Homo sapiens: one gene and its partners. The protein of the gene in region 4 interacts with the protein of the main gene of each other region in a pairwise test. Each region holds a gene or a part of one and is shown on either strand. Other genes may lie near its edges.

Evidence for each region.
Region 1: the proteins of TBC1D21 (region 4) and GTF2E1 interact in binary tests that used the Homo sapiens proteins (3 or more experiments, as listed by UniProt).
Region 2: the proteins of TBC1D21 (region 4) and KIF26A interact in binary tests that used the Homo sapiens proteins (3 or more experiments, as listed by UniProt).
Region 3: the proteins of TBC1D21 (region 4) and RAB3IP interact in binary tests that used the Homo sapiens proteins (3 or more experiments, as listed by UniProt).

Annotation. Positions count from the first base shown.
Region 1 is NC_000003.12:120,766,373-120,774,304, reverse strand, and holds part of GTF2E1 (general transcription factor IIE subunit 1), read right to left. Parts: intron 3,578-7,932; coding exon 3,376-3,577; intron 1-3,375.
Region 2 is NC_000014.9:104,176,081-104,181,820, reverse strand, and holds the end of KIF26A (kinesin-like protein KIF26A), read right to left. Parts: coding exon 3,923-5,740; intron 3,272-3,922; coding exon 3,066-3,271; intron 2,586-3,065; coding exon 2,435-2,585; intron 2,213-2,434; coding exon 2,031-2,212; 3' UTR 927-2,030; downstream 1-926.
Region 3 is NC_000012.12:69,733,409-69,742,246, reverse strand, and holds the start of RAB3IP (rab-3A-interacting protein isoform alpha 1), read right to left. Parts: upstream 3,388-8,838; 5' UTR 3,216-3,387; intron 2,867-3,215; exon of another isoform or gene 2,401-2,866; coding exon of another isoform or gene 2,378-2,400; intron 1-2,377. UniProt on the Homo sapiens protein: Guanine nucleotide exchange factor (GEF) which may activate RAB8A and RAB8B. Promotes the exchange of GDP to GTP, converting inactive GDP-bound Rab proteins into their active GTP-bound form.
Region 4 is NC_000015.10:73,876,257-73,884,188, forward strand, and holds part of TBC1D21 (TBC1 domain family member 21), read left to right. Parts: intron 1-5,142; coding exon 5,143-5,250; intron 5,251-5,387; coding exon 5,388-5,491; intron 5,492-7,894; coding exon 7,895-7,932. UniProt on the Homo sapiens protein: Acts as a GTPase-activating protein for Rab family protein(s). Essential for the establishment of male fertility, and is required for both the production of normal sperm number and sperm function.

The DNA of each region.
Region 1 (7,932 bases), on a different chromosome or scaffold from region 4:
TCTCACACCCATTTGTCTCTCTGACTCCTTTCAATGCCTCTTCTATCCTCAGCCAACATCCCCATCTTGATGTGCTGAGCCTGCTCTATATATCTGCCACCCCAAAATGTTTCTCCCTGAGTTAGCTAAACCCACCTGGGAGAGACAGAATAGGCATATTTCTCTGATCTGGCCAACCACATCCTTATCTTTCCTTGATTCAGACTTAAATGACTCACTCACTCTGAGGTTACTGCTTCTCTTTATATATAATCCTGAACACAGAGTTTTTCTCTATTCTCTATCTTTAGCATTGACTACAAAGACTGTCTTATGAAGGTATGAGGAGTACTTTGAGAAAAACAAGAAAGCTAGAGAGAAAAGAACAGAATTAAAATAAATGTTAACACAAGAGTACTTTTAAAAAGTCTTTTGTTTTTAGTATTCTGTCATAGAAATTCAAGATGGGTTTTATTCTAGTTTGAGGCAGCAGACATTTGACCATAAGTCAAACAAATTTTAAAATTTGGAACAATTTTAATTGAAGATGACAAAAATGACAATTCATGTTTGAATCTTTTTATATTATTTAATAAATTTTAGAACTTTTAAAAGATACAACTCTTACTCAGAGATGAGAGGGGAATATTATTTCAAAACTAAATTTTTAAAAATCTTTAAGGTAAGTGTTAAGAGATGATGAAAAAGGGAAGGTTACTAGCAAGGAATTCCACTCTAGAAAGATAGGAAGATTTTTATATCTCATCAATAGGTTGACTTGCTGAAAGGATAGAATTGTCCATCAATTCTTGGGTTAGGCCTACTGACAGTTCTGCAGAGGTAGCCCCTAGTTTCTGATCTAGGGACAAGCTAGAATTTAACTGATTACAGATCAGTAATCAAACTAATAATATTGCCACTTATTTAAAAAAAGAAAAGCTATCATCTCTGAGTTCCCATACCATTCTATTGATGCCTCTTCTCTTGTACTGAGGCAGGATGGACTATTACATCCTTGGGGCAGGATGGGCCATTTCAAAACTTCATACTCCTATAGTACAGAAAGGCCAAATCAATACCACCTCCAGGATGTTATATCCAAGCAGTGGAATTTGTCAAATGCTTTGGTGGGGACATTATAACCTGGGTAACATCTTCTAACCTAATGGTTTTTTTCCTGACCACGTGGAAATGATTTTACTTTGGTCTGGCTGGCAGCTCTAGGAACCCCATTCTGTCTTTCTTGTCTGCCTCCATTTCCTCCCTTTTTTCTTAATGACCAGATTTTTGGGTATCCTTTTTTCCTGATCAGTTTATTTCCTCTATTTCCTGGTTCTTCTTCATCCCTGGAGTCACCATCATTCCTGATAAGAAGAAGATGACTTGATACAGAGAGCTGCTGTTGGGCCTCTGGTGTCACTGTACCACTAAGACTCATCCAAGGCCTGCAGTGAGTGGGGGATATGGAAATAAAGATCCTGGAAGGGGAGCTGGATTGTGGTAGGTGGAGAACATTAGAGACAGGAAGCCAGTGGTGGTGGTGACTGAATGCTATTGTAGTGGGGAAGCATCTTGATAAACAGGACAAATAACTACAGGTAGGAGAGGAAACATCAGAATAATTCAGATAGTATATTGTGTAGGAAGCAATCAGATACTACACTGACGCATACTTCAACATGAAATAATCCATAAGCTTAGAAAATTTTGTATTTTTGTAAAATCAATTTCCCTCATAAGCTTGTATGTTAGAGCTACAATATAACTTAAAAGGACTGAAAAAGATACAAAAAGAAAAATTCCTTTTTCAAAAGAGGAATTCCTTTTCTTACACAAAAAGAAATAAATAACCAGTACCAAAAGTTAAGGCTATCTGTGATACAGATGTTATTAGTTTCCTATCAACTGTGGCTCCTTTCTTTCTTTGCTTATTGGTTTTATTAAAATACCAATGGCAATTTGCTCCAAAGAACTCTGGGACCTTCCCCAGTCCTAGAAGGTAAACCTTAACTAGTCTAAGTACCAGTCATGTGATCTCATTTCCTTTGCCAGCTGCTGGTTTAGAAATATGCATATAAAACAATTGCAGCCAGTGAGACATCAGGGGATAAATAGAGTATCCTAGGGAGCCCTCTGGGAAACCTTTCTTCAGTTTTAAAATAGGACACAAGGAAGGGACGGTCCCTTTTTCTGCATTTGGACATTGTCATCTGCACGTGATACCTAGAAATACATGGCCATATTAGACTAGCTCCCCTCATGGTCCCAAGAGGATAATCAACAGGCTGAGTTCAGCAGAGTATAAAGATGGAACAAATCTAGATCCCTGAAGATATAATTGAGCTGTGAAATTAACCAGTTTTGAACTGTACTACTTCAAGACTTCTAGTCATGCAAGACAAATTTTCTTATTGTTCAATCTACTGCTAGACTGGATTCTAATTCCAACTAGAGCTGGATATTCTGTTATCACAGGCAAAGGCATCCTAACTGACACACGGTACTGGATTAGAAAATTCATAACTCTTACAGATACAAAATTTTCTGTAGAATTGGATTGCTTTGAACCATCTAAAAGGAGCCCAATTTACTCAGGACTGGCTATTCTGTAACATCAGTACCACAGGAAATAAAATACTAAGAATGCTCCTAAAAACTATACAAATACAGCCTGATTGTTGAGCTCTTTGGAAGGGAGTGGGTGAAGTGAAGGTTAAATAAAGATATCCCTTACTTGATGCTGGGAAGAGGGAGAGAAAAAAAAGGGTAGAGTAGGAGAGCACTCCCTGACCCCAATTTTCATTTATGCTTTTCAAGAAAGAATATAAACCACCTTTTCTGGCATGGCAAAACTAAGGTTACCTCTGAAATTCAAACATTAGGGAACACTGATAAAAATAGGGAGCCACTGTTAGGAGTATTAACCCATAGGTAACACCAGCTATACTTTACTTTCAAGGAAGTTGCAATTACAACTAAGAAATAAAGGTGATTAAAATGCTTCAAAAACAAAAAAGAAAATGCTGAATTCCTTAAAGGCCTTCAGCCTTCAGAAGCTGGCTAGGAAAATTCAAATATCCCCAAGCGGCACAACTAATTTAGGATTAGCTAACAATTGGCTGAGTTGCTGCAGTCCCAAGCAGAATGAGTACTTGAAGTCAAACCTAAATATTTAAAGATTTTTGCCTGAAGTCCACAGTGTTCTGCATTTAGAACAAACGAATTTCATCACAGGCACACGTTAATCAGACAAATGTGGCACAACTGAGAACCTACGTAACATTACAGTCTTGAGTCTCCTAGTAAATTACCCACTCTTGTTCTCCAAGGTACAGGTAGTTAAAACAAGAACAGGTTGAAATGTGTTCTTAGTAAGAGCACAGGGCCTACACTCACCTCTGTTTCAGGGCTGGGATTTCTGTGGGTTCTGGCTCAAGTATTTCATAGGCCAAGTTCACATCCTCTGTCTCCCGAAGCAATGCATAAATGGGCTCAATTTGTTCATTAAACCTTGCCAAAAGTGTGCGTGCATCTTTTTTGGGCATTGCTGATTCATCCTCTTCTACCTCTGTATGGCAAAAAGTACAGCGGAAAGTTCCTACAGAGAAAACAAGTATCTCAGGTCAGAGAGAAGACTTTAGCAGATAGTTTATACCTCCACCCTCCCCCAATATCTTATTATTAAAACTTTCAAATATACACAAAGGTTGAAAGAATTTCACAGTGAACAGCCATGTGACCACCATTTAGATTCTACAATTAGCATTTTGCTATTCATCACATATCTATCCATCTATCATTTTTGATGTATTCAAAGTAATTTCATCCCTAACTTCAGCATAGTTTTTAATCACAATATTTCTAATATGTATTTATTTTAACTTAAAGCCAAATTCTTTACAGCTTACCACCACAACTTGTACCCTTTCCTGGCAGCTTTAGTCTTTTTTGTTTTCACATTACACATTTGGGCCTACGTTATGGGGAAAGCCAAATAAATACCTAAAACCAAGAGTTTCTAGTCATCCTGAACATTGTCACAGGCTATTTTTTAAAATTTATTAACCATTTGTATCTAATCAATTCAATCTATTATGCTAAAACTCACACTCTTAAACATTACTTAACAGTCTACACCACTAGCCACACCTGGATTTCCAGTTTGGTTCTTATTCCCAAAGACAGGAATATGCATCCTTCCTTTCTGACTCAACTTACTTGAAAGATTAAAAGGGAACATGTAAGTACTTAGTGTCTGGCAAATAGTTAAGTACTCAAACATTTAGCTATAAAAGGCCCCATGTATGATTGATACATAAAGAACAAACAACCAAGTGATCTCTACTTCAACATAACACTAGATCCTACTGATACATTACCAGTATAATAATTTTCTTTACTGCCCCTCACACATAGCCAATAGCATGTAAATTATTTGTTCAAATACCCTAAAATACATCTTCTTATTGTCTAAATGCCACCTAATCTACATCTATCCCAAATAAGTGAGAAAGAGAGAGAAATGCAGCCCTTCACAGCTAGGAGGTGGCTCAGCACTCACAGCTAGACTGTGGCATTTTTCTGTCAAACAAGATCTCACAGATCACTAACATCAGACTATGATGGAAGTGAGGCAAACCCAAGCCACTGTGGAATTGCGTCTGAGAACAGACAAAAGCAAGGACTCCATGCAAACCACAAAAAATCCCATCTTGCACAAGTGACTGCTGCTTCTTTACCATTTAGTTTTAGCGTCACTCTGTTCTTGTCACCTCCTAGATAAGATTTATGAAGATACCCAATCATAGAATTATCCCCACTTCTTCACAGCATCCAATCCAAAGGAAACCTTCATCACTTCCCTGAATCCTCCCCAAAATTACCCAACAAAAGCCCACATTCTCTAAGTCTGTCCAACATCATCTTACCGACATTTCATGGTTTCCCCATGGTATGTGGCTTCCCTTGCTGCAGAAAGCATCAATAAACCTAACTTTGTTTACTACAGGTGCGTACCTGATAGCTTTTGACTAATGGTCACGAACATAAAGATTATAACTTAATCAACTGGACAAGAATACTATTATACCAAAGTAAAGAGAGGAAGAACTAGCTTTTTTTTTTTTTTTAGGTAAAAGATATCAAATTGCTTTAAATATAAAAATGAATATGTAAAAAGCCAACTAATTACAAATGCTAACAATTCAGCTCAAGAGAGGGGTTTAGACTACAAATTTAGATATGAGAATCAACAACCTATAGGTGGTAACTGAAGCCATATAGTAGATAGAAGCATCCGAAGAGATTAAGGAGAGTGAGAAGAAGCAGTTAAGGCATAAACTCAAGGAATGAGGAATCCTTGAGAAAGAGAAATGGTGCAACCAGAGTGACAGGATGGTGTTTCAAGGAAATGTATGGTCCTAATATTAAGAGGCCAACAAGAGTTGAAAACTAGCTTTTATATTTGGTAACAAAGGGTAAGAAGCAACCTTGGCTAGAAAGGTTTTAGGTAGAATGTTATCTTATATTATTCTCCAACTGTTCCAAGCTGTCTCAGCCTCTTCTCTTCAACAGAAGCAAGGAATATAATCATGTGGGGGCTTAAAAATAAACCACATAAAGTAGGGTTGAATATAGCTCTCGAATACCTGCTGAATTAAAAAACACACCAATGTGAGACTGGGACTTAAATTGACTGTTGAAAAATAAGCACCTACAGAGACTGTCAATGAGAACTAAGAATAGTTTGGAAGACAAGTTATCTAGTTCTGTAGTTTTCAAAATGTTTTTAAAGAAAGGAATCTCATTTCTCAAATGGAAAGGTGATTAATATATAAACATAAAAGCAAATGCTCTGGGGTAAAGTATAGAAACACAGCTAAGACAAAGGTTAATACTCCAACCCTCTCATTATCTGTTTTCAAAGCATCACAAACCGGCCTCCTCAATGTCTCCCATCAGGCACACTCTGCTGCAGAGCCTTTGCACTGCTGTGCCCTCTACCCAGATGCCTTCCCTCCAGAAAATCACATGGCTCATCTCCAAACTTACTTCAGTTCTTTACTCAGAAGCCACCAGTAAGGCCTTCTGTAGCCAACATTATCTAAAATTTCAACTGTCTTGTCCACCCAAACAATCGTATCCTCTTTCATTTTCTTTTCCCTTAGCATTATCATTATCCAACATGTTTTATTATTTATCTAATTTATCATTAAAAAGTCATGTTATACCCGAATTTTAAAAAAATGTCCTCCCAAATACCCCATTTCTCATTTTAAGACAATATGTACTCCAAACTTCAGCTTTAAGTAAACAAATCAACATGCTTGTCAGTGTAGCTCATCCTCATAAAACAGCAGTGCTTTTATTTGGGGAAAAGAGAGAAAGAGAACAACACTAATATCATTATTTCACAGAAGGACAATCTCAGAATGACAGTCCTTTAACTCGAGTAATTTATTTTCATGAAAAAGAATAGGGGGAAAAATAAAGTATATAGTCATAAGGCACCTAAATTCTAATCTCATCCAAACTTAACAGGAGTTACTTACAGAAGGGCTGATTTTGCAGGTATGAAAACAGCAGCTTTAACATTATTACTAAGAACTGTGAAGGGTCTGAGATTTTACCCTACTTGTAAGCTAACAAGTTATTCTGCCAGTTTCATGGATACTGGCAGAAGACACAAGACCCCAGGTCAGAGACAAAGAACTTCACTACTCAAGGAAATAGCAGTAGCCAGTGTCAGTATTTAAGCCAGTTCCCCATGCCCCAATTTCCATGGGGTGCGATAGAAGGGCCAGGTAACAATTACACATGCAATGGGTTGTGTTACAGGAAAGAGAGCCTGAGCTTAAAAGGAACTCAAATATTTTATAATGGGCATAAGCATGCCCATTCTTTGCACTGGAGGGTGGCATTATCCTTACTTACTATAAACTCTATGTAAACATGCTCTGGAAGGAGACACTTTTTATACTGGACCATAAGCAAACCTGCTCTTTGCTCTGAAGAGAAATACTATCTCTGTCTTGCAAGGCTGCTCGTTATATAAACATCCTTGAAAATGATAGTCCAGGAAAAAAAGCAGTCAGTCTGTATCTCTGCTTGCCAAGACATGCATAACATGTGAGAGACCCATGGAGAATAGTCTCCCAATAAATACCACATCTAGCAAATATTACAAAAGGAAAAGCTAGCCTGACATCTCTGAGCCCTGTGTTTATCACAAAAACATTAGTTATAAATGAGAAGCCTGTCAAAGCCAAATGTAGAATTTCTTATTTTTCTTCTGGGACCCTAAAAAATGCAAGAAAAGTAAGAAATTTGACATTTTACAGAAAATGACTTAAGACCAGTTTAATATACCAGCAGCATTTTTTATACATTTCACTACGCATTGTAAAAATGCAAATCAGTTTTCCTGAAATCAGAAGGGGCAAGTGGCAAGGGGCAGGAGGACACGGAAACCCAGCACATACTATGTAGCAAGCAGGCACCCACGCTACTGAGAGAGTGGTGGTGGCATACACAGACAGAACCAGTCAGCAAGAAGCTTTAGTAGGGAAGAAAGATGTCTGGAGATAAAACAATCAGGGATCAGTGCAAAAAATAAAGTACATAAATGTTTTGGAGTTCAAAGAAGGAATGTGACTTCTAGCTGAGGACACTAGGAAAAGCTTATTGAGAAGGTAAACCTTTTTGAGAGACAGTTTAGAAGATAAAAGATGAAGGAGAAGATGAAGGGGTAAGGGAACAGGACATTCTAGATCATCATAAGAGAAGTAGGGTGGTTGAAAAATGATGTTAGACTGCAATTTCAGTCTGATAGGAAAACAGTTATCAAAAAGAATGATAAAAAACAGACTTAACAAGATAAACTGGGGTGACCATAAATTGGTCTTGAATGATAAGCTTCATTTTGACTTTATTCTTTAGTAATAGGAAAGCCAC
Region 2 (5,740 bases), on a different chromosome or scaffold from region 4:
CACGGGGGATGGTGGGGCCTCATGGCCAGGACCTCGGGTTGAAGGTGGAGTGGAGCAGCTGGAAGCCAGTGCAAAGCCGCAGAAAGGGGCAGGTGCCCAGACACAACCTTCGCAGGCCAGGCAGGCGGGGGGTACTGGCATGGGGACAGAGTAACAGGCTTAAGGAAGCAAACTAGTTCCGCTGGGGACCTACCAAATGAGAAGCAGATAGGACTCCGAAGAGGCCAGGAGGCAACCAGAGCAACAGCTAAGGTGGCCCCAGAGGGCACATGTACAGGTCAGGTGAGGCCATGAGCTCACAGCAGTCAAAGGGCTGGGGATCCCCCAAAGGGTCTGGGGCCTCTGACCACGGGAAAGCCCAGCAAACTGGGGTCAAGACAGACCCAGGCCTGAGTCCTCCAGGGAAGAGCCTCCATCCAGGCTGCCCCGGGAGGGGGCTCTTGTGGTTCGGGGGTCCTGAGCCCATGAGCAAAGGTAGGCAGAGGGCAGAGGATGGCAAGAAGACTCTGGGAGGGAAATGCTGCCATCACTCCTGCCTCGACTTCCCCACACAGCATAACCCAGAGACAAGGGAGCCAGGGGCCGCTTACACAGGGCTGTTTCCCGCCAGCCCAGCCCCCAAGCCTGGCTCCCTGCCCCAGCCTCGGGACCCTAAGATCTCAGCAGAGTCAACAAGAAAGCAGATCAGAAAGGAAGCGTGGGCTTGAATCCCAGCTCTGTCGTGTTCCACCTTCTCTGAAGGGCCCTCATGGCACCGTGGGCCCCACAGGGGCTGCAAGGCAGGCCCTGGCACAGCACCCGAAGCCCTGGGTCCCCGTGGATGTGTCCTTCCCACGCTTACTGCCCGTCACCCCAGGGACCCTCAGAGGGCGGCACACCAGGGCGTGAGGAGTCTGCCGACGCCCAGTGAACTCGGCAGCCGTGGGAACCATCGATGCATCTTTAATTCACAAATAAAAGCTGTAGCAAGATGTCATCTACACATTTGTACAAAGGTTCAGACGTCCTATGCTATGCACGATCCTCAGAAAGTATGAGCCTGTCGTGCGGGGACGTCGCAAACGCTGGCAGGCTCACCCCTCGTCTGCATTTGGCAAGAAGCGCCTCCCAAGGCCCCCCCACCCTGCCCAGGGTGCCCCCCAGAGGGAGCAGGCCTCCCACAGCTGGAGAGAGCCCGGCCCCCAGAACACCTTCCCTAGAAAACCATAAAAACATAGATCATTTGTCTTCAAATTCCCACGGCAAATTCCGCATTTATGGGCAAAATGATATAAAAATATGAACCTAACAGAACCTTTACAAAACCCTACCCCCCATCTTTGTTGTTGGTCGTGGTGGTCTGTTTTGTTTTTTGCTTGTGGTTTTGGTAAAAATTCCTGCCGTGGAAGAGGCAACCTGTACCTGGGGCTCAGCCCTTGTTAGCTGCCCTCGGGACAGAGCGGGTTCTCGGGAAGGGAGGGGACTCGAGGTCAGCCATCCCTGCCCGGGAGACCCCAGGATGGATCTGCGTTGAGAACCCCACACAGATCCCCCACAACCCGGGCTCTGCCGAGAGGAAACCATTGTAAAAGAAAAGTCATCCTGAATCCTGAAAGACCCCTGGGGCGTGCAGGTAAGTCCCACTCCACTCCACAAAAACTGCTTGGCTGCAAAGAAGGCAAGGTGGACACAAACACAACCGGCGCCAGCCCCGGCCCGGACAGGCGCAGCGGGGCCGGGCTGAACACAACTTCTGCTGGTGTCTCAAGTCTGTAGCACCAAATGCAAAAGGGAGAAAAGTCCAAATCAAGGTCAAAGGCACTTGCGTTGCTGTCGGGTGGTGACGGTCTTCTGGTCACCCTGGCACCCTCGCTCTGTCCACCGCGTGGCCGGCCCTCCCTCCCCCACACTCCGTCTCCTCTCTGAGACTCCCGTCCTGCACAGAAACCCCTCCGCATCCTCCCCCCGCAGCCCCCACCACATCCTCGCTCCGTCCCACGTCCCGTCCTCCAGCCCGCTGCACGCCCCCTCCTCTTGTCCGGCGCCCAGCCTCAGACGTCCACCTCCTGCGGCCCCGGGATGGCAGCACTGGCTGCAACGCTGATGTCGAAGCAGGTGACCATCATGACGTGCGCCTTGCACAGGTTCACGCACTGCTCCAGGGCCGCCGTGGCTCGCTCCAGGGCCGCCAGGTACTCGGCCGACTCGGGCTCCAGCTCCGGGTCCACCTCAACTGGGGAGGGGAGGAGAGGGGAGGGGCACCTGCGTCAGGCCCGAGGCTGGGGGCAGCCACCTGGCCCCCCAGAGGCCCCAGGAAAGGCATCTTGGCCCGGCCGACCCTGCCTTCCAGCCTTCCCACCACGAGGTACAGGAGAGCAACAGGGCTCTGGGAGGGGAGGGCAGCTGTCAGGGCACACGGTGGGCCGGGCTGGGTCCGTGGGCGGGCGGGACTCACACTGCTCCAGCCAGCGGCCAGGCTCCAGCATCAGCCGGCCCTGGGTCTCGGCCAGCTCCTCACACAGGTGCTTGTGCTTGGCCTGCACCTCCCGCAGCCGCTGCTGCCTGCGCTCCGCCAGCCGCAGCCTTGTACTGACGCACGCCAGACCCTGGGAGGCAGGGCGGGCGGGGGCTCAGGCATGGGACCCTCTCCCCAGAGACCCCCAAGCAGCCCTGATGTGGCCCCCGCCTCCCTTCACCTGCCAGGCCTTGGCAGGCACACAGTGGGGCTCCAAGGGCGGGCAGGGGGCGGACCTGGGGCAGCCCACCCATGCCCGTCTGGGTCCTGGCTCGGCTCTAGGACCACCCTCCCCACGACAGGGGAGAATTCCAGCGGACAGCAGCAGTGGCCTCAGGACCCCCCAGCCACCCACCCACTGCCCAAGGGGAGTGTCGGAGCTGCAACAGGCTTGGGCTGGGCAGGGCCGCTCCTACCTTTGCGTCCTGGGAGGAACGTGGACAGAAAGTGAGGTCAGGGGCTGCCCAGCCACACCCCCAGAGGCCTGGCGAGCCCATCAAATGGCTCACTCTGCCATCCGCGGCAGGCTCCCCACCAGGGGTCATAGACCCCAGCCCACCAAAGGCCCTACCTGGGTGGGGGCCTCCCTCGGGGTGGGGCGGGGCCGCTGAAGGCGCTCCACGTCATCGATCTCGTACACCTTGATCTCGAACGGCTCCTTCAGGGAGCCAGCCAGGGGCGGGGGCAGGTCCACCCACTGCCCGGGGAGGCTGGGCTTACGGCCCAGGGCAGTGGTGTCGGGCAGTGGGGCGGGAATCAGGCGCCGCCGCTGCAGACCTGGAACGGAGAGCCGGGCACAGGGTGAACAGAGGCGGGGCCCAGCCCAAGCACAGCCCCTGCGGGGACGCTGCGGAGCCGGCCCGAGTCCTGACAGGGAGGCCTTCGGGATCCAGTCCAGGAATCCTCAGGCTGGCGCTCTGCCCAGGGCAGGGAGGAAGCCGACCCCAAGCCAGGCCCACAGCTCTCAAGGGCGCCCCCACCACCACCAGGGCCTCCCACTTTCCCTGCCATGACCTGAGCAGTTCTGTCCCTTGGGGCAGCCCTGGCGGGGGCCTTCCAGGCAGCTCGACACTCGCCAGGGAGGCACGAGGCCCGGGACCCAAACCCGAGTCCAGTGCCCCAGCCTGGCGACCTGTGCAGGGCTGCCCTTGTGCTCACCCAGACACAGACCAGGATCAGCCCCCCAGGGCAGGGTGGGGCCAGAGAAGGGCAAGTACAGGGGGTTTATAAACTGCAGAGGGCCGTGCACCTCCACACACAAAAAGCCCCAGGCGAGTCTGTAAACCGTCCACGGCTGTGTGGGTCTGGGACCTTGAAGGCTGTGCCCATCTGTCCAGCATCTCCTGGCCCTGTAAACTGTAGAGGGCTGTGCACATCTACACACAGAAAGCCCGTAAACTGTAGAGGGCTGTGCACCTCTGCACCCACCTGTGGCCCTCTTCTTGGGGGACTTGAGGCTGCGGGTGCGGGCGCCTGGGGAGGCAGCCCCACTCTCGCTCATGGAGTCAGGGGCGGAGGAGGCGCTGCCGGTGGCCTCGCTGTCGCGCCGCAGGCTCTCATAGCCACTGCTGCCACCGCTGTGGTGGAAAAGGGCGGTGCGGCCCATGGCGGGCGGCAGCTCTCCACTCAGCACGCTGCTGTTGTCGCTGCCATGGCCGCTGCTGTAGCGCTGGGGCCGCCGTGGGGCGGTCACCTTGCTGTAGGGGGAGGGCAGGGCCGGGCCCGTGGGTGGCCGCTCCTCCCCCACGTTCACGCCGCTGTCATGGCCGCTGTCTGAGTCCGCCGAGCCCCACGAGGAGCCACCTCGGCCCGGGGCTCCACTGGCTGACAGCTCATGGACGCGGCTGTGAGCAGCCCGGAGCGCCTGCTTTGTGCCCATGACGGTACCCCGGCCAGCCTTCGCCCCGACACTGGGCCCGGCCCGTGGGGCTGCTCTGGGACCGGCCACAGGGCCGCCAGGGCTCCTGCCCGTCACAGAGGCCGTAGACAGCTTCACCGAAGGCCCCAGAGCCCGCGACCCACCAGCCACTAGGCCACGGCCCTTGCCTCCACCAACAGGGGGCTTGGGGGCCCCCACAGCCTTGGCTGCGCCGCTCCTACAGGCGGGAGCTGGACCGTGTGTGGGGCTGGAGGGTGGCACACCCAGCTTGGGTACAGCCCGGGGAGGCCGCCCAGGGGCTTCCCGGCCCTTGCTGCTGCTGTGCGCCAGGCCTTCGTACCGCTCCAGAGACGCGTGTCCGGCAAGACGGTGTGCTGCTTCTACCTTGCTGGCCCGGGCCTTCAGGCTGGACGTGGCCCTGGGGACAGAGTGGTCAGCCCGGCTGCTGGGTCTGGGCTCCTCCTCCCCTCGAAGGACAGCAGCAGCCCCGACCCGCGCCGGGTTCACAGCATGCGGAGGGGCCGAGGCCGGGCTGCTCCTCTGCTCCAGGCTGGACTTCCGCGTGGGTGGGGCCGGGGGGGCCGCCCCACTGGGCCTCGGGAGGAAGCCCGCCTTGGGAGCCAGACCCTTCTTGCTGGTGGGGGAGGCCTTCAGGCTCCCCGAGCAGGCCACCACCTCCGTGGGAGCATCTCCCCAGGACACAGCTGGCGTTGTCACACCCAGCGTGGTGGCACCCCTCCGCAGCGGTGGGATCCGAGCCACAGCCTCTGGCCTGCGGGCCGCCCTGGCTGCCACCTCACACCCGTCCACCACTCTCTGGGCACAGGCTAGCATCACCTGGGCCTCAGGCAGCCGGGGGGAGCCAAGTGTGGGGCTGGGGGCCCTGCCAGCAGAAGCTGCCTGGGTATCACACTCCCCTACCCGGAGCAGCCATGGGTCCTCAAACAGGCCTCCACGGCCAGGTGGGCTCTGGCCCAGGCGAGCACAGCCCACACGGGTGGTGGCAGAGGCAGTCCTCGGTTTCCGGGGGAGGCTGGAGTGGATGGTCTGGGCTGCGGATGCCCACCGCGAGGGCCCGGCCTGGGGCTCCCTGCCGGGTCGGGATGGGGCCACTGCAGCCACTTCCCCAGGGCACGGACCCCAGGTTGGCCCAGGACTGTCAGGTCTGTCTGGCCCCAGGAACCCAGAGCTTCCATCCCCCAGGGAACCATCCAGGGCAGGGGGGCCCCCAGGGTCAAGCCCTGCCAGCGAGTCGGGGCTGAAGCGGGGCTGCGGCGTGGGGTCACGGCTGTCGGCAGTGCAGACGCTGACCTCGCTGAGCCAGGAGCTGATGGAGGAGCCGTGACTGCTGCCGGCCCAGGCTGCCC
Region 3 (8,838 bases), on a different chromosome or scaffold from region 4:
TTAGTGTGAAAAAGCGTACTCCCTTGGAATATCTTCAAAGCTTTCCCTCATTACCTCAATGCACAAATATCTCTACCCACTATCCATCTGTCCTTCCTCTCCACTACTCAACTATCCTAGCACTTTGTCTTAGTTGACATTCATTAAAATATGTAAAGTGCGTTCTACATTTTGAAGAACTTATAAAAGATATGGGAATGATTATAAGGCCCTACCTTCCATATTCCTTAAGAACAGTTTCCTTTAACCCCTACTGTGACTTGCAGAGTAGATGCTCAATGAGTATTTGATTTAAAAAAATCTCTGGTGACACAATGAGAATTACATATTACATTAACATTACGTATCTCATAAAAGCTAAATTACAAAGTTCTTCAGCATTATAAGCTACACATAAAGAAGTGATAATGTAGTGATTATGAGCAAACAATTCTTTAGCATTACCACTTATACATGAAGAAATGACAGAGTGTAGTGGTTAAGAGCACAGACATGGAAGACAAACTGTCTGACATCTAATCTAGACCTGTCACTTAATTAACTATGTGACGTTGAGCAAACTACATAAGGTCTCAGGGTCTCAATTTTCTCAACTACAAAATAGGGATAAAGTATTATCTCCTCGCTCACTCTGAGAGTAAATGAGTATAAAGCTTACACCAGGACTTCGCTTGATAAGCACTAGACTTAAAAGTAACTGTAGTAGCAATGCTGGTATCACCGTCTTCAGAAAACTTGGATATTTTTAAACCAGAAATACAAATGGTAACACTTGTCATCTGTGTGCCTCCTTATAGTTACAAAGCTCTTTAATAGAAGGTGCAGACCAGGAATGTAAGAAACAAAAGCACTACGTTCCATTTTGGGCAGTCGGATACAGTTTTTAATACCGGCTCTGTCACTGGCCAGCTGTACGACCACCTACAACTAAGTAACCATAGACAAATTATCGCAACTTTCTAAGCCTCCATTTCCTGACTTGTAAAATTTGATAAACCACCTATATCCCGGGAATGTCCAGAGGACTGAGGAGTCAAGGTATCGAAAACAAGCACACACAGTGCCTTGCACACAATCAAGCTCACACTGGTTCCTTCTCCCCTTCCCCACATCTCTAATGGAGTATGTTATTAAATCCTCATCTTACCATTATGAAGTTCATATTAGGTTGAAACATAAAAAACAGCAGAATATTAGCAATTTCAACCTAATAGTATTTCCACTGACAAATGGAGAAAATAAGCTCAAACAGGTTAAATGTTTTACTCAAGGTTTTATGCACAGTAAGTGATGGAGCTGAACATTAAATAATTTTTCATTCAGCCAGCTCACTAATTTGTTCACTGACTCCTGTTGAGGAGGAAAAAAGTATAGTAACTACTATAATGCATATAAAACTACTGTAATCTACAAAGTATTTTTTCGTGCCATATTTAAAAAATGAGGGGGTGAAACATTTCTAAGAACCTTTCCATTTTAAAAATTATTTGTAGAGGATGTGTGTGTTGGGGGAGGATGAGAGTTTAGACAAAATCAAAGGTAAAGAATATTAAAGGAAACATATGGATAACTGCACTAATTCAAAAAGTACAATAGGATCTATTCAGAAATCCCACAAAGCAGCTAAACATTAAATGGCCATCCTGGTGAAAGATTACAAGTATTCAGTACCACAGATGAGTTGTTTACCAAACACAGAAGGAAGAGTTGTATCAAACACTTTGGTTCACAAAGGTATACATTAATATGTAACATTACTGTAATGGAAAAAAATGCAATGGCTTTTCATTTAATAGTTAAAAAATGGACTACTTAATTGTATAACTGTTTATTTCTATAAATTCCACAAGGGCTTTAGGATTAGATCACATAAGCCGCATCTGGAATACACTGTCTGTCCAAACATGAAAAGTCCTATCAAAATGCACAGTACTAGTAAATAAATAACAAATGATAACAGAACAAGGCCCCATAAAACTGGTGAAATATTTAACAGTATCAAATATTTACTACGATTGGTCTACAACCCTATTCTGCCTCTTTTCTCCTTGATTTGTCATTCAGCACTGGAAGAAAAAAAAACCTTCATGAACAACAAAATGAGAAAAAGGATAATGAACAAGAACTGGGTCTTTCAACTGATTTACAATGGAACAGTTTTGTTGTAATCCTCTTATGGGCCCCTCCTCCAATTATGCAATCATTCCACTGCAAGAGATTACAAGGCTTTTAACCCGACACTGAACGGAAGGAGTTGGGGTGAAACAGGAGAGTGTATAACAGGTAGCCTCCGAACAGGCAACATTTCCATGAAACTAAATTGCCTCTCAGTAATCAGTACTAACTAACTCAGCGCTCGTGTCTTTCAAGACCTTACCCTTTCATCTTTTTTAATCCCATAACAACCGGCAACTCTTCACATGCTGCGACTTCCACCCAGCATCATCACTTCTGGAGCCAGTAAGCTCGCGCTTCCTGGGCGGTCGGGGCGAGTTGTCAACGCTGGGAGGGCAGAGCCATGCAATCCCACCCGTGCAGTTCGTCTCAACTCCCCCGAACACAAGTCTGGCGGCACGGAGCTGCCTACTTGGGCGCGACTCCGGGCGCCTGCCCGGAATTTCCCACCAGGTTTCACCGAAACCTCCCGAGGGTGACCTCTACGCCTCAGCACGGTGCCTCGCGCGTAGTTTCCTAAGACTGGGACACGAAACCACCCCAGGTCCACAGCCCTGCCGCGCGGCGTCCGGTGTTGTGAGCTGCTTCCGACTTGTTCGGGAACTCTCTCTTCATCCTCTTCGCGACCGCGGCCCTCCGCTCCCGGCCGCGCCCGCCCGCCGCCAGGTAACCCGCTGGACTCGGGCTCCCTGCCCCGGGCGCGCGGGACCGCGCAGTTAATGTGTAACGCGCCCGTGCCCGGGGGAGGAGCCGCCGCCCGACGCCCACCAGCAGCCCAGGGGGCGGCCGGCTGACCCGGGTCGCCAAAGTCCCCCCCACACGCCGCCCCCAAGGGCCCGGAGCCCAAGTGCCCAGGCGGAGAGCGAGCTCACCGGGCCTGGGCATCCCCCCGAACCCCCGCGTGCCGCGCCCTGCACGGCGCCAGCACCTGCACCTGCCGCGGCCGCCCCTCCTGGCCGACTCGCCAGAGGCGGGCGCGCGGGCGCCGAGGGGGGCGGTGCTCTACGCTCCGGGCCTCTCCCTCCCGCGGCCGCACTCACCTGAAGAACCCACCGCGGCCGCTGCCGGCGCTCAGGGGCGCTCACAGAGCCGCAGAGAGCGCGTCCCGAAGCAGCGAGAAACGGAGGAGGACGGCGAGCCCTTTCCGCTACACTCCACGGCGGCGGGCTCACTACGCCGGCAGCCGCCGAGGGAACGCGGGACTGCGCCTGCGCCGGAAGCGGGGCCGGGGGCCGGGAGCCGGGAGCGGCCGGTCCTCACGGAGGGAGGGCGGGGTAGGGGGGTGTGGCCGGCAGGGGCGGGGCGAGCCCGGCATGGGGCCTGGGGGCGGACGCGCTTCCGCGCCCCCTGGCGCCAGGCGGGGCTCGTCGCAGGTGTCACGGCCCTGGCCCGAGGTTCCTCCGCGGGCGGTTTCCCTGGGAACCAGCGCGAGCCGGAGCTGCGCTCTGTTTCGTCGGGCCCGCGCTCTGTTTCGTCGGGCCCGCGCTCTGTTTCGCCGGGCCCGAGAGGCGGCCTCAGGTTAACTTCAAGCATGTTGGGCTCTCCAGGAGGGAGAAGAGGCACCTTTGCCGTGGGTTGAGGACTCCTAGAACCAACCTGAGACTCCGCGGCCATATACACCTTACGACGTGTGTGTGTGTGGCGGGAGATGGGAGGGGAGGAATCCTGTAGAACCCAGATCCCATCATTCCAGCAACTGCCAGAGCGTTCGAGAATGTCATGTCTGTACCTGTCTTCTCTCATCTTTTGTGCCAACTGTTTTATCAAACTTCTACCCCACTTTAGGTCTTCCAGGTAGGAAAAATACAGAAAGAGCCAAGATCCCAAAAATCAAAAAAAAATAATAATAATAGAGGTAGTCATAGTATGTGTCTCTATGTTTAGCAAAAGAGAAACGTGCATTTGTGTGATACACTTATTGAATAGGACCATCATTCTGGGTATTAATCTCATCTATTAGAGGCAGTAAAGAAAAGTAGACTATATGTATGGTTGTTGGAGTCAGAATTACTGGGCTTGAGCCTGCCACCTGCTAGCTGAGTGACCTTAGGCAAATGAATCTCTCTAGCCCCAATTTTCTCATCAGTGAATGAGTATACAGAACCTGCCTCACTGAGTCATTAAGAGTTTAAATGGCTTAATTCATGTAAACACTTTGCGTACTTCATGACACAGAGTGCCTAATAAATATTAGCTATTGTTATTATACCATTATAACTATTATCATGCATCTGTAATCCAGAAACCTAGAAAGCCAGTGTTTCTTATTTTATACCCCATCGCCAATATATCACCAAGTCTTATTCATCCTAATTTCTAAATAATTCTTAAATCTATCTTATCTGATATTCATTGCCACTAGAAATGACCTTTCTCATTAATGGATTCCTATTCTCCCTTACACCTCATAGCTGGTCATTTATTCATCAGACATTTTATTGCACTCCATCTGTGTGCCTCCTGTTAGACATAGGGACAGAGAAACCATTACAAAGTCCCCACCATCCACGGACTCAAACATATATAGGGAGACAAGTATGTCAATAGTAGCTACGTGAAATGAATAAATTAAATATACAGCAAACCACTTAGGCTCCCCAGTCTTGCCGTACTCACATACAACCCTGTATTTCCATATGCTGTTTATTTTTATGTCTTGATCTCCTACCTTTTCCTTGCCTTGCTAATTATTTGTTATTCATTATTTAGCCTAGACATCAATTCCACTGTGAACCCTTCCCTATTGTTGGCCACTCAGCCCTATCCCAGCCACTCCAGTATGGGCTAAGTGCCCCTACCAGGGCTTCCATAACACCGTATCTCTTTGTAACACTTATCACATAGAGTTATAATTGTATCTGTATTTCTCCATTTTCCTGGACTGCGAGCTTCTTGAGAACAGGCACAAGGTCTGACATGCAGTAGGACTGACTCAGTAAATGCAGAATGAGTGAATGGCATGCATGCAGAGTGCAGTCTTGGTATGTGAATGTTTAGAGGACAAGTCCTATGATATATTCTACATAAGACCTAAGACATCATGATCTATAGGAAATAGTAAGCAGTAACCATATATGCCTGAGTCCTGCGTTGGTCCATTTACAAATCACCTACCATCCATGAGGCTTTTTGAAATATACTGAAAGATGTTCCTCTTGAATACTTAACCTGTTAGCGCTGTTTGAGAAGAGTGATATAGATTGTTACCTATAATAATACTTCAGTGTTCTTGCAGCACAGAGACCAAGATACATTACAGAATATTAGACACTCAGAATCTCAGCCTACAAAGTATGTAAAGGGCTGTGAGCATCTTAAGTTTGATAGCTTACCCATATATAAAAAGGACAGCTATTTCACAAAATTTAAAAATGTGAAAGATTTGGATGGGCACGGTGGCTCATGCCTGTAATCCCAGCACTTTGGGAAGCCAAGGTGGGCAGATCCTTGAGGTAAGGAGTTCGAGACCAGCCTGGCCAACGTGGTGAATCCCCATCTCTACCAAAAAAAAAAAAAAAAATCAGCTGTGCATGGTGGCACACACCTGTAGTCCCAGCTACTTGGAAGGCTGAGGTGGGAGAATCACTTGAACCCGGGAGGCGGAGGCTGCAGTGAGCCGAAATCACGCCACTGCACTCCAGCCTGGGCGACAGAGTGACACCCTGTCTCAAAAGAACAAAACAAAAGGCCGCACGCGGTGGCTCACACCTGTAATCACAGCACTTTGGGAGGCTGAGGTGGGCAGATCACCTGAGGTCAGGAGTTCAAGACTAGTCTGGCCAACATGGTGAAACCCCATTTCTACCAAAAACATAAAAAATTAGTCGGGCATGGTGGCTGGCACCTGTAATCCCAGCTACTCGGGAGGCTGAGGCAGGAGAATCACTTGAACCTTGAATCACTTGAACTCGGGAGGCAGAGGTTGCAGTGAGCCGATCGCGCCATTGCACTCCAGCCTGGGTGACAAGAGTGAGACTCCATCTCAAAAAAAAAAAAAAAAGAGTGAAAGATTTTATAGTGTGCTCAAGGTTGCCTTTTTCTCTTTATTTTTTTCTCTTTATTTTTTAAAAATGTAAATTATACAATTAGTGTCAAATATAACGTATAAAATAATATTGCTTTTTTTTTATCTTAAGACTTTCTCATTTATACCTTGGGCCAGAAAAAAAGCAGATGAGTGCAAATATATAGACATTGTAAATTGAACAAACCATTCTAAGGTTGTTACCCTTAGTTATAACTTTTATTACTTGTTTGCCTCTGTTTTGTTTTCAGAGTTAAGAAAATGTATTTTCATGGTATTTTCCAGTTGCAAACTGACTTCATGTTAATGATTACATGAGTCTTGTACAAAAAACAATTTGATGCAGGTGGAAAGGTAGTTATTCTTCATTTTTGTGGATGGGGAGCTTAGGCCACCAGAGTTAGGGCCCTGGTGTTTGGAATGCAGGTTAATATCTTATAAACGAATGAAGTGAAAACATATTGAACTTTTGTGTCCAGTAGTATGGCAGACTAGAGGCTCTGGCTGATTCTCAAACCCAAAGCAATATATATAAATATATATAAAACATCTTATCAAGCATATCAAAGAGTTGGCAAGAATATAAGAAACCCTGAAGGGCAAAAACTAGGTGTAAGTGAGAACTCAGACTGGTAAATAGTAACAATGCAAAAATGAAATGGAAAAAAAAGACAGTTATGGGAAAAATGTACCAAAAGTAATTAATCTATCATTTCCTTGTCTGCCAAAATAGTCAGTGAGTGCCAGTGCTTGTGTTCTCATAAAAACTGACTTTTGCAACTCCTGTAAAAAAGCAGAGCAATCTCAAAAGTGTCTGTCATGATATTAATTATGGACAATCCTGTATTTCAGGCCCCCTTTCTGATGTTGGAATAAGTGACTGGGAAAAATTGGAAAGCTGAGAGAAAGGGTTTAAGAGAGAGCTTAGACTCTAAAAAGTATGATTCCCCCCTTCAAAAGAATCACTTTAACAAGCTACATATATATAACAAAACGTTTTGAGAATTGACTTTAGATCCAGTTTATCACACACACAAATTGCCATCCATCAAACAAATATTTATTTGTAGCTTCTCTGTGACAACTGTGTAAATAATTTTCAGTAAGAAGGAAGAGAAGGAGAGATGAGACACAGTGAGAGGGCTTCCTGGCCTCCCCTTACTTTTTAATTCCAGCTATCGCTCTATTACTGAGGCTTCCTTCATCCCTTCCCATAGGTTCTGTGAGAAATCCTTCTGTCCTTAAAATAATTCTCCCTTTTTTGCTTTACATAGCTTTGAATGATTCCTATTACTGCCACCAGAAAATTATCCTAAACTATATATTTTCATACAGGGATTGATTTCTGTAGCAGTTAAAAAGCTCAAAGTAACAGTAGCTTAAAGAAAATAAAATGTATTACTCTCACATCAGTGTAGGTGACTCTCTAATCAGCAGATCCATGGGCTCCTTCCATCATGTGGCTTTACCATCCTGAAATGCAGCTTCTACCTTATGATCCATCATGGCTGTTCAAGTTCCTTATATCCTTTTTCCAGCAAGCATAAAGGAGGTAGGGGCAGAAAGGAACACACGTGTCTATTCTAAGCCACTTACAGAAGTTGTATACATCACTACACTATGCTCCCTTGGTCAAGTGTAGTCTCTATTGGGTAGCCATGTGCCCAGCTAAAAATCAGTGGTTCTAACACTAATGAAGAAGGGGAGAACGTATATTAAAGAGAACTAGCAGTCTCTACTTCATCACCTGGCATGAGACTTAGGATGAGAGAAATGGTGATGGGGTAGAACATACAAATAGAACAAAGGCGGTGTTAGGAAAACATGCAGTGTGTTCAGAGATGGTAAGCAATGCAGCTTAGTTGGCTCATGGAACAAGTGCAGGTGGATAGATAAGCCTGGAAAGATATGCAGGAGCCAGATTGTGGAAAGATCATAAATGCCAGGCTGAAGAATATAGAATTTGATAGAAGAAGGTTTCTGAAAGATTTTTGAGCTGGAGAGTAAAATGATCAAAACAATGCTTTAGGAAGACTTGTGTTGGCAATGCCTAGAATATATTTGAGGAGAGAATGACTACAGGCAAGGAAATTAGATAGGAAGCTACAATGAGATAGTGCCTATACTTCATCAAAACAGAGAAGAGGAAACATTTCAAAGGATGTCTAATGCAACAAGTGATTAGATGTCTCACACCTCTCTCATGCACACACACACACACACACTCACACACAGAGCTTACTCAGCGTCCATTATACCTTTTTGAGATCAGCACATTGATGTTACTTGGAGAAGCATCTTTCCACCATATTTAGTCTGTATGATTCCAGTGGAACTGAATTCCCCCAACTCCAGGGGTGAATATGTGACCCAGGCTTGACCAATCAGAGAATCCTAGTCTCTGTGATGGATTCATTGATAAGCAAATGACTCAAGTAGAGCCAATAAAAGTCAGTTCTGGGAGTTTTGGGTTAATGTTGGGAAAAATGAATCTATGTGGATTGCTGAGAAAATCAAATGTAAGCTGCTGGCAACAATCTTGCCCCCATTGGAGAATATGCCTAAAAATGGAACTAACATGGAGACGGCAGATCTGAGAGAGAAGAAAACGAAGTGTGAGTCCTAATGACATCATTTTA
Region 4 (7,932 bases):
TTGCTCTGTCACCCAGGCTGGAGTGCAGTGGTGCGATCTCAGCTCACTGCAAGCTCCGCCTCCTGGGTTCACGTCATTCTCCTGCCTCAGCCTCCCAAGTAGCTGGGACCACAGGTGCCCACTACAACACCCGGGTAATTTTTGTTTTTTTTTTTTTGTATTTTTTTTAGTAGAGAAGGGGTTTCACCATGTTGGTCAGGATGGTCTCGATCTCTTGACCTCGTGATCCACCCGCCTCGGCCTCCCAAAGTGCTGGGATTACAGGCGTGAGCCACCGCGCCCGGCCGAAGCAGTGACTTTTTATAAACAAATTCAACCACGGCAAAGTAGGCAGATGGCCAATTGTTACAGGTAGAGGTTTAGAAATGCAAATTCTCTGAATACTCAACAGATGTCTTCTTGTGATGTTTCTAATTATTTCTGCCTTATTGCGTTGATGCTGTATCTTTTGTTACGGTGTGCGGTGCATATTACTTTAATTTCAATATTACCTCTCCATTGTGTTTGACTTTTTTTCGTATCTTTGTTCGTCATTTATTTTTTAATCATTGTAGGGCATTTGATTTTAAGGTATTTCTTTTGTTCACAGCTTGTGTAAGATACATATTTTTTATTTGAGTGGAAAATCCTTGCCTTTTAATTCCTTCCCACTGCCCCTCCCACCCCCAGCATGGCATTAGGGTTAAGCCTCTGACTGTTGCATCAAACAGCTTAGGGTTCAAACTCCAGCTCTGATACTTTCTGTATCTAATCTCAGATATGCTAATTAACCCTCCTGTGGTCTCAGTTCCCTGATCTGTAAAACAGTACAAGAACTTTACCACTTCATAGATATTTGCGAAGATTAAATGGGTTGATATATGTAAAGTGCTTAGAACAGTGTCTGGCACATCATCAATTGCTTTTTAATGTTTACAGCTAATAAGAGAATGAAATGCATTTATTTTCATAATTAATTGCTTTGGGTTTCTATCATTTTTATGCTTTATACTTTTATTAATTCCTTGTTGTTTCCTATATTGCTTGCTTTTATTTTTTAAAGTGAGTTGGAAGATGTCCTGTTCCTATAAATTCCTAATTTTTAAAGTAAAAAATAAAGCAATTTCTTTTGACTCCATCCTAATATCTAATAAAGAAATAGAATCTGCAATTAAAAACTTTCCCACAAAGAAAACTTTAGCCCAGATGGCTTCACTGGTTCTACCAAATATTTTAAAAAGAAATAATACCAATTCTATACAAACACTTCCAGAAAACTAAAAAAAAAAAAAAAAAAAAAAAAAAAAAAAAAAAAGAAATCCCTACTCATTTTATGAGGCCAACATTACCCTGATACCAAAATTAGAGATCTTACAAGAAAAGAAACTCACAGGCAAATGATTCTTGTGAACATGGATGCAAAAATTCTAAATAAAATTTTAGCAAATAGAATACAACAATGTATAAAAAGCATAGTATATCATCACCAAGTGGGGCTTATCCCAGGAATGTGAGGCTTACTTACCATTCAAAAGTACTCAATATAATTTACCATACTAACAAACTCAAAAAAAGAAAACCATATGACCATTTCAACAGATGCAGAACATTATTTGACAAAATCCAACATCCATTCCTAATTAAAAACTCTCAGCATGCTAGAACTGGAAGGGACTGTCTTCAACCTGATAAAAGGCATCTGTAGAAAGCCTAGAGTTCACATCATACTGAACTGTGAAAGCCTGAATGCTGCTCCTCTAAGATGAGGAACAAAGCAAGAATGTCTTCTCTCACCACGTTTATTCAACATTGCACTTGAGTTCTAGCCAGTGCAGTAAAACAAGAAAAAATAAATAAAAGGTATTCATACTTGAAAGGAAGAAGTTAAACTGCCTTTACTCACAGATGAACATGCTCATCTATGTCAGAGTTGGCAAATTTTTTCTGCAAAGGTCACAATAGAATTTTTGGCTTTATGTCCACGCAGTCTCTGTTGCAACTACTCAACTCTGCCATCATAGCATGAAAACAGCCACAGACAAAAATGAGTGGGTGTGGCTGTATCCTAATAAAACTTTATTTAGAAAAACAGATTGGAGGCCACATTTGATCCATGGATCATAATTTGCTGACCCCTGGTCTATGTCAAAAATCCCATGGAATCCACAAGAAAGCCACTACGACTACTAAGTGAGTTTTACTAGGTTGCAGGAATACAAGATTGATATATAGAAGTACATTGTATTTCTATTAGAAATTTAAATTTTAAAATGATACTTTTTACAGTAGCATCTGAAATATGAAATACTTATGGATAAACTTGACAAAATATATGAATGACCTAGACACTGAAAACTACAAGACACTGCTGAGAGAAATTTTAAAAGACCTACATAAACAGAGAAATATATTGTGTTCACAGGTCAGAGGACTCAATAATGTCATCAATTCTCCCAAACTGGCTTACAGATTCAATACAGTCTCCACCAAAATCACAGCTGCCTTTATTATAGAAATGGACAAATTGACTAAAATCCTTATGGAAATGCATTTCTAAAGTTAAAGCATTTCCTTTTATAGTTAAGGATCCCGGGACACAGCCCAGCTTTGCCTGTTCCCTTCTGCTTCCTGCCACATTGCATGCTGAGTGTTGCAGTTTCTGAATGAGTGTAGGTTGGGAGAACATGATGACAATCAGAGGGGCAGAAAGCTTGCTCTGATGAGTGGCAGTGTCTATGCAGGTGGGGAACACATCAGGGCAGACCCTGCTTCCCAGGGTTAGGCCCACACCGAGATTTGTAACTTCTTGGCCCATGTGTCCTATTTTGGTTCAGATGACAGGGCATACATGAGTTATTAAAAATGTGTTTCTCAATCCATTTCCATCAAATATACAGTTAGTAGAAATTATCCCAATTTGGAGCCTGTAGGCTCTTATTTTTAGTTAACAATGCTGCTTTGCCTTCATTTATTTATTTATCTATTTATTTGAGAAGGAGCCTTGCTCTGTCACCCAGGCTGGAGTGCAGTGCCATGATCTTGGCTCACTGCAATCTCCGCCTCCCAGGTTCAAGCGATTCTTCTGCTTCAGCCTCCTGAGTAGCTGGGATTACAGGCACCCCGCCACCACACCCAGCTAATTTTTGTTTTTTGTTTTTTTTTAGTAGATATGGGGTTTTATCATGTTGGCCAGGCTGGTCTCGAACTCCTGACCTCAAGTGATCTGCCAGCTTGGGCCTTCCAAAGTGCTGGGATTACAGGCGTGAGCCACCATGCCTGGCCTGTTTTGCCTTCTAATACTTTACTACTCATGTGGTTTGTGGACTAGCAGCATCACCTGTTACTCAGGAGCTTGTTAGAAATGCATCATCTTGGGCCCCACCCCAAACCCTCTGAATCAACTCTGCACCTGCAGAAGATCCTTAAGTGATTTGTACGCCAATTTAATTTTGAGTCACATATTCAGATGTATACTAATGGGAAGTTGGGAGTGTGTATATTTACATGTCTACTCAGCTCTGTCCATCAGCACATCTTTATGTCTGCAATGTGGCATTTCAAGATATTCTTCTCTCCAGCAGAAGAGAGTATCCCAGGAAGAAAGGAATCTTCTCTTATTCCAACAGGAACCCTCACTCCTGTTGTTGTTGTTGTTGTTGTTGTTGTTGTTAGAGATATTATTATTATTATGTGCTCTGTTGCCCAGGCTGGAGTGCAGTGGTGAGATCTCGGCTGACTGCAACCTCTGCCTACCGGGTTCACGTAGTTCTCCTGCCTCAGCCTCCAGAGTAGCTGGGATTACCGGCATGCGCCACCATGCCTAGCTAATTTTTGTATTTTTAGTAGAGACAGGGTTTCACCATGTTGCCCCAGGCTGGTCTCGAACTGACCTCAAGTGATCCACCTGCCTTGGCCTCCCAAAGTGCTGGGATTACAAGCATGAGCCACTGCACCTGACCCTAGTTATTATTTTATAAGCATTTTGAATTACTTTGCATGCAGTGCACTCACCTCTCTCCAACACATACACACACACATGTTCACATACACATAGCACACAGATATATACCACACACACACACACACACACACACCCTTATCAAAAGCAGAGACTATCTCTCATAATGAACCATTCTACATTTCCAGGAAAGGTAAAGTGGAGCTCATAACTGTGTCTAATTAATGCTTATTTTATATTTTCCTGTGATCAAAGCAGTGTACATTATTATAGAAAATTTTAAAAATACAAGAAAGGCCAGGTGCGGTGACTAACGCCTGTAGTCCCAGCACTTTGGGAGGCTGAGGCAGGTGGATCACCTGAGGCCAAGAGATCAAGACCATCCTGGCCGACATGGTGAAACCCCCTCTCTACTAAAAATACAAAAATTAGTTGGGTGTGGTGGCGCGTGCCTATAGTCCCAGCTACTCAGGAAGCTGAAGCAGGAGAATCGCTTGAACCTGGGAGGCAGAGGTTGCAGTGAGCCGAGATCCACCACTGCACTCCAGCCTGGCGACAGAGTGAGACTCCGTCTCGAAAAATAAAAAATACAAGAAAAAGGATAAAAAGTACTTATTTCCTATCACTCAGAGATAATCACTGCTGTTTTTAGTGGGGGAGAGGAACTTTTTTGTATTTTCTCAGTCTTTTTCTAACAACTTTATAGTAGTCAATGCATTATATATTAGAGTTTATGTGGGGTATTATTATAATATATAACGGACACAATACATAGGTATTACTATGAGGGCCATAGTTGTACTATATAGTACATAGAGAAAATGCTAGATATACAATTCTGTATTCTGCTTTTTTCTGTTAACATTTGTATTTTTTCTGATTATTATTCATTCCTTGTAAACAACACTTATATGCCTCAAAATATTCCATTAAGCACATAAACCACAGTTTACTTAACTACCCCCTTATTGCAGAACATTTAGAGTGCTTGCATTTTTCATGTTGGTGAGTAATGTGCATGAAAATTATTGTGCATACAGGATTTTTTCTATATATTTTCAGTAATGTCCTCAAGATAGATTTCCGAAGTAAGTCAGGCTGTGCGCTTTGATACATATTGCAAAGTCCAGAACATATTATTTAAAATCACACTTAAAAGCCGAAGCCTTCTAACATAAGGCAGAACTGGTTGCTGCTTTTGCCAGGTGAAGAGAAAACCACCCATTGACAAGACAGAATGGGACAGCTTCTTTGATGAGAGTGGCCACTTGGCCAAATCACGGGACTTCATTTGTGTTAACATCCTGGAAAGGGTGGGTCCCCAAGCTACCCTTGGCCTTGCCCTGGAACTGGGAGCATGGATGGGCAGGGGGCAGGTGTGGCGTTGGATGAAGCCCTTTTGGTAGGCATCGATAGAGCCCATGACCTCCACCTCCCACCCCCACCCCAGGGTCTGCACCCCTTCGTGAGGACTGAAGCCTGGAAATTCCTCACGGGCTACTTCTCATGGCAGAGTTCCCAGGATGAGCGGCTCACGGTGGACAGCATGAGGAGGTAGAACACTCCAGACCCTGCTGGGACAGGAGGGGGGCCTGCAGGTGGCAGGTGCTGCCTCCCCAGCCTGCAGACTATCTTCTGCCCCCATGCAACTTCTTATTCCGAGAGGAACCCCATGCCTCCTGACCCAGGCACAGCACACAGGAGGTGCGGCCAGTTCGTGCCAGTGCCTTCTCTCCCTGAGCTCCATTTACCAGCCCATCAACTGCCAGGCATGGGCTTGGTCCCAGCCACTCCTCTTACCCCTGGGCCCCAAGTCCCATCCTTCCTTATGGCCTATGCATTCTTCCTCTGAAGCAGCCCTTGAACAGAGTCTGCCACCCTCTTCCCTGGGTGCCACCCCAACTCCACCTCCTCCCTGCCCCCCATGGCTGAGCTGCCTCCCGGGTCTAGTCTCCCCACTCCCTGCCTGTGCCCACTGTTTCCTCCCGGTGCCCAGGGGAAGGTACAAAACCCAGTATGGGCTGCCTGTGTCCTTAGATGAAACACTCCCAGTGGTGTAACTGGTAACGTTTCAAATAGCACATCTTCTCTTCCAAAAACTTCCTGATCCTAGCTCCACATCGCCCACTATCCCAGAGCCTGACATTCCAACCACACTGACAGCCTCACTGACTCCTCATCTGCCCACTCCTGCCCCAGCACAGACCACGTTTGCACTCCCCTCTGTCCTTGGTTCACCCTTTCTCCTCCCTCCACAATGGCTTTCTATCATCTGCCTATCAGTAGCCCACCCTTCCTTCAAGGCCCAGATCCCACAGTATACCTACTCCAAGCAGCCCTCCCAGATCTCCCAAGGGAGCCAGGGATGAGGCACTTTGTTTCAGTAGATAACACACCATCTTTGAACTTGGACCGTCTTGGATTTGGAAACCGGGTTCAAATTTCAGCACTCTGATTTACACCCTGGGTAAACTTGCCCATGAACTTCAGTGCTGAAGTCTCAGTCTCCTCCTCTATAAAATGCAGGTAACAATCTATTTCACAGAGTGGTTGTGGGGGCTCAATCAGATAATACAGGTAAGGCACCTTGCACAGGGGAGGAATCAGTAGCTTTTATGATTTTGATGGGAATCCTCCCTCCCTGAAGCCGGAGGCCCTTGACTTGCACTTCCATGACCCTGGGCACTTGGTCCCACAGTAGTGAGAACGGAGCCTGTGTCTTCCCTCCCAGGTTGAATGCAAACAAGGGCAGAGGCTGCAGCCAGTTTGCCTTTGTCTTGGGCCCTCTCCTGACCTTGCCTGTCCATGGGAGGGCTCCGTACACACTGGCTGAGTCAGACTGACTCCACTGCTGAAAATCTTCCCATCAGAGGAACGGACTCCTTTGGATTGTGGCTGCATGACTATGTAGCCTGGGCTGGACTCACCTGTCTGGGAGCCTGAAGCAGGGGCTAGGCCCAGCCCCAAGGGAGCATCCAGACAGAATGTGGAAAAGATTCACGTGTCGGGGCCAGCCAGAGTGACCCGGGGTGGGACGGGGGTGTGAGGGCTGGGCTAGGGAGCTCAGAGAGGTTCAGGAGCTCTGACAAGAGCCCACCTGTGTTCATTTCCTGAGGCTGCCTTAGCAAGTACCACAAACTGGGTGGCTTCCGACAACAGAAACCTGTCTTCTCGCAGTTCTGGAGCCAGAAGCCCAAAATCAAGGTGTTGGCTCCTTCCAAAGGCTCTAGGGTAGAACCCTTCCTTACCTCCCAGCTTGTGTGGCTCCCGGTGTTCCTCAGCTGGTGGCTGCCTCACTCCATTCCCTGTCCCCATGGTGGTGAGACCTTCTGCTTTCTGTGTGTTATAAGAACACATGTCATTGGATTTGGGGTCCACCTGGAAAGTCTTACGGATCTCGTCCGGAGATCCTTGACTTAGTCACATCTACAAAGACTCTTTTCCCCCACATGGTTACATTCACAGGTCCTAGGGGTTAGGACATGGATATGTCTTTTTGGAGGCCACCATGCGGCCAGCAATACCAACTAATCATATTCTAATAATGAGGACAAAACACCGCCTCACTCAGCACTTCCAATTCTGAGGCACAGGTGCCAGTATTATGCCCATTCTACAGATGGGGAAACTGAGGCTTAGAGATGGAAAGTCGTGTCCCCAAGACTTGCCCCCAGTGGCAGACACCCCGTTATTAAGATGTAGAGCCAGGATTCAGGTGCAGCGTTTGGAGTACAGAGCCCAAGAAGTTAAACTGTCTCTGTTCTGCAGTCCAGGTGCATGTTGGAGGACAGTTAGGGTGGCACAGGTTGAGATGAGGGACAGCATCACAGGTAGGGTGCATGGCTGGGTGAGGGTGCTGCCCTGGATCTGCCTGGGGCCTGGTAGCTGCAGCTGCTCATTCACCACTTATCAGAAGGGGAAAAGCCACCTTGTTCAGCCTCAGTTCTGTTCTCACAGGAAGAACTACAAGGCCTTATGCCAAATGTATGAGAAGA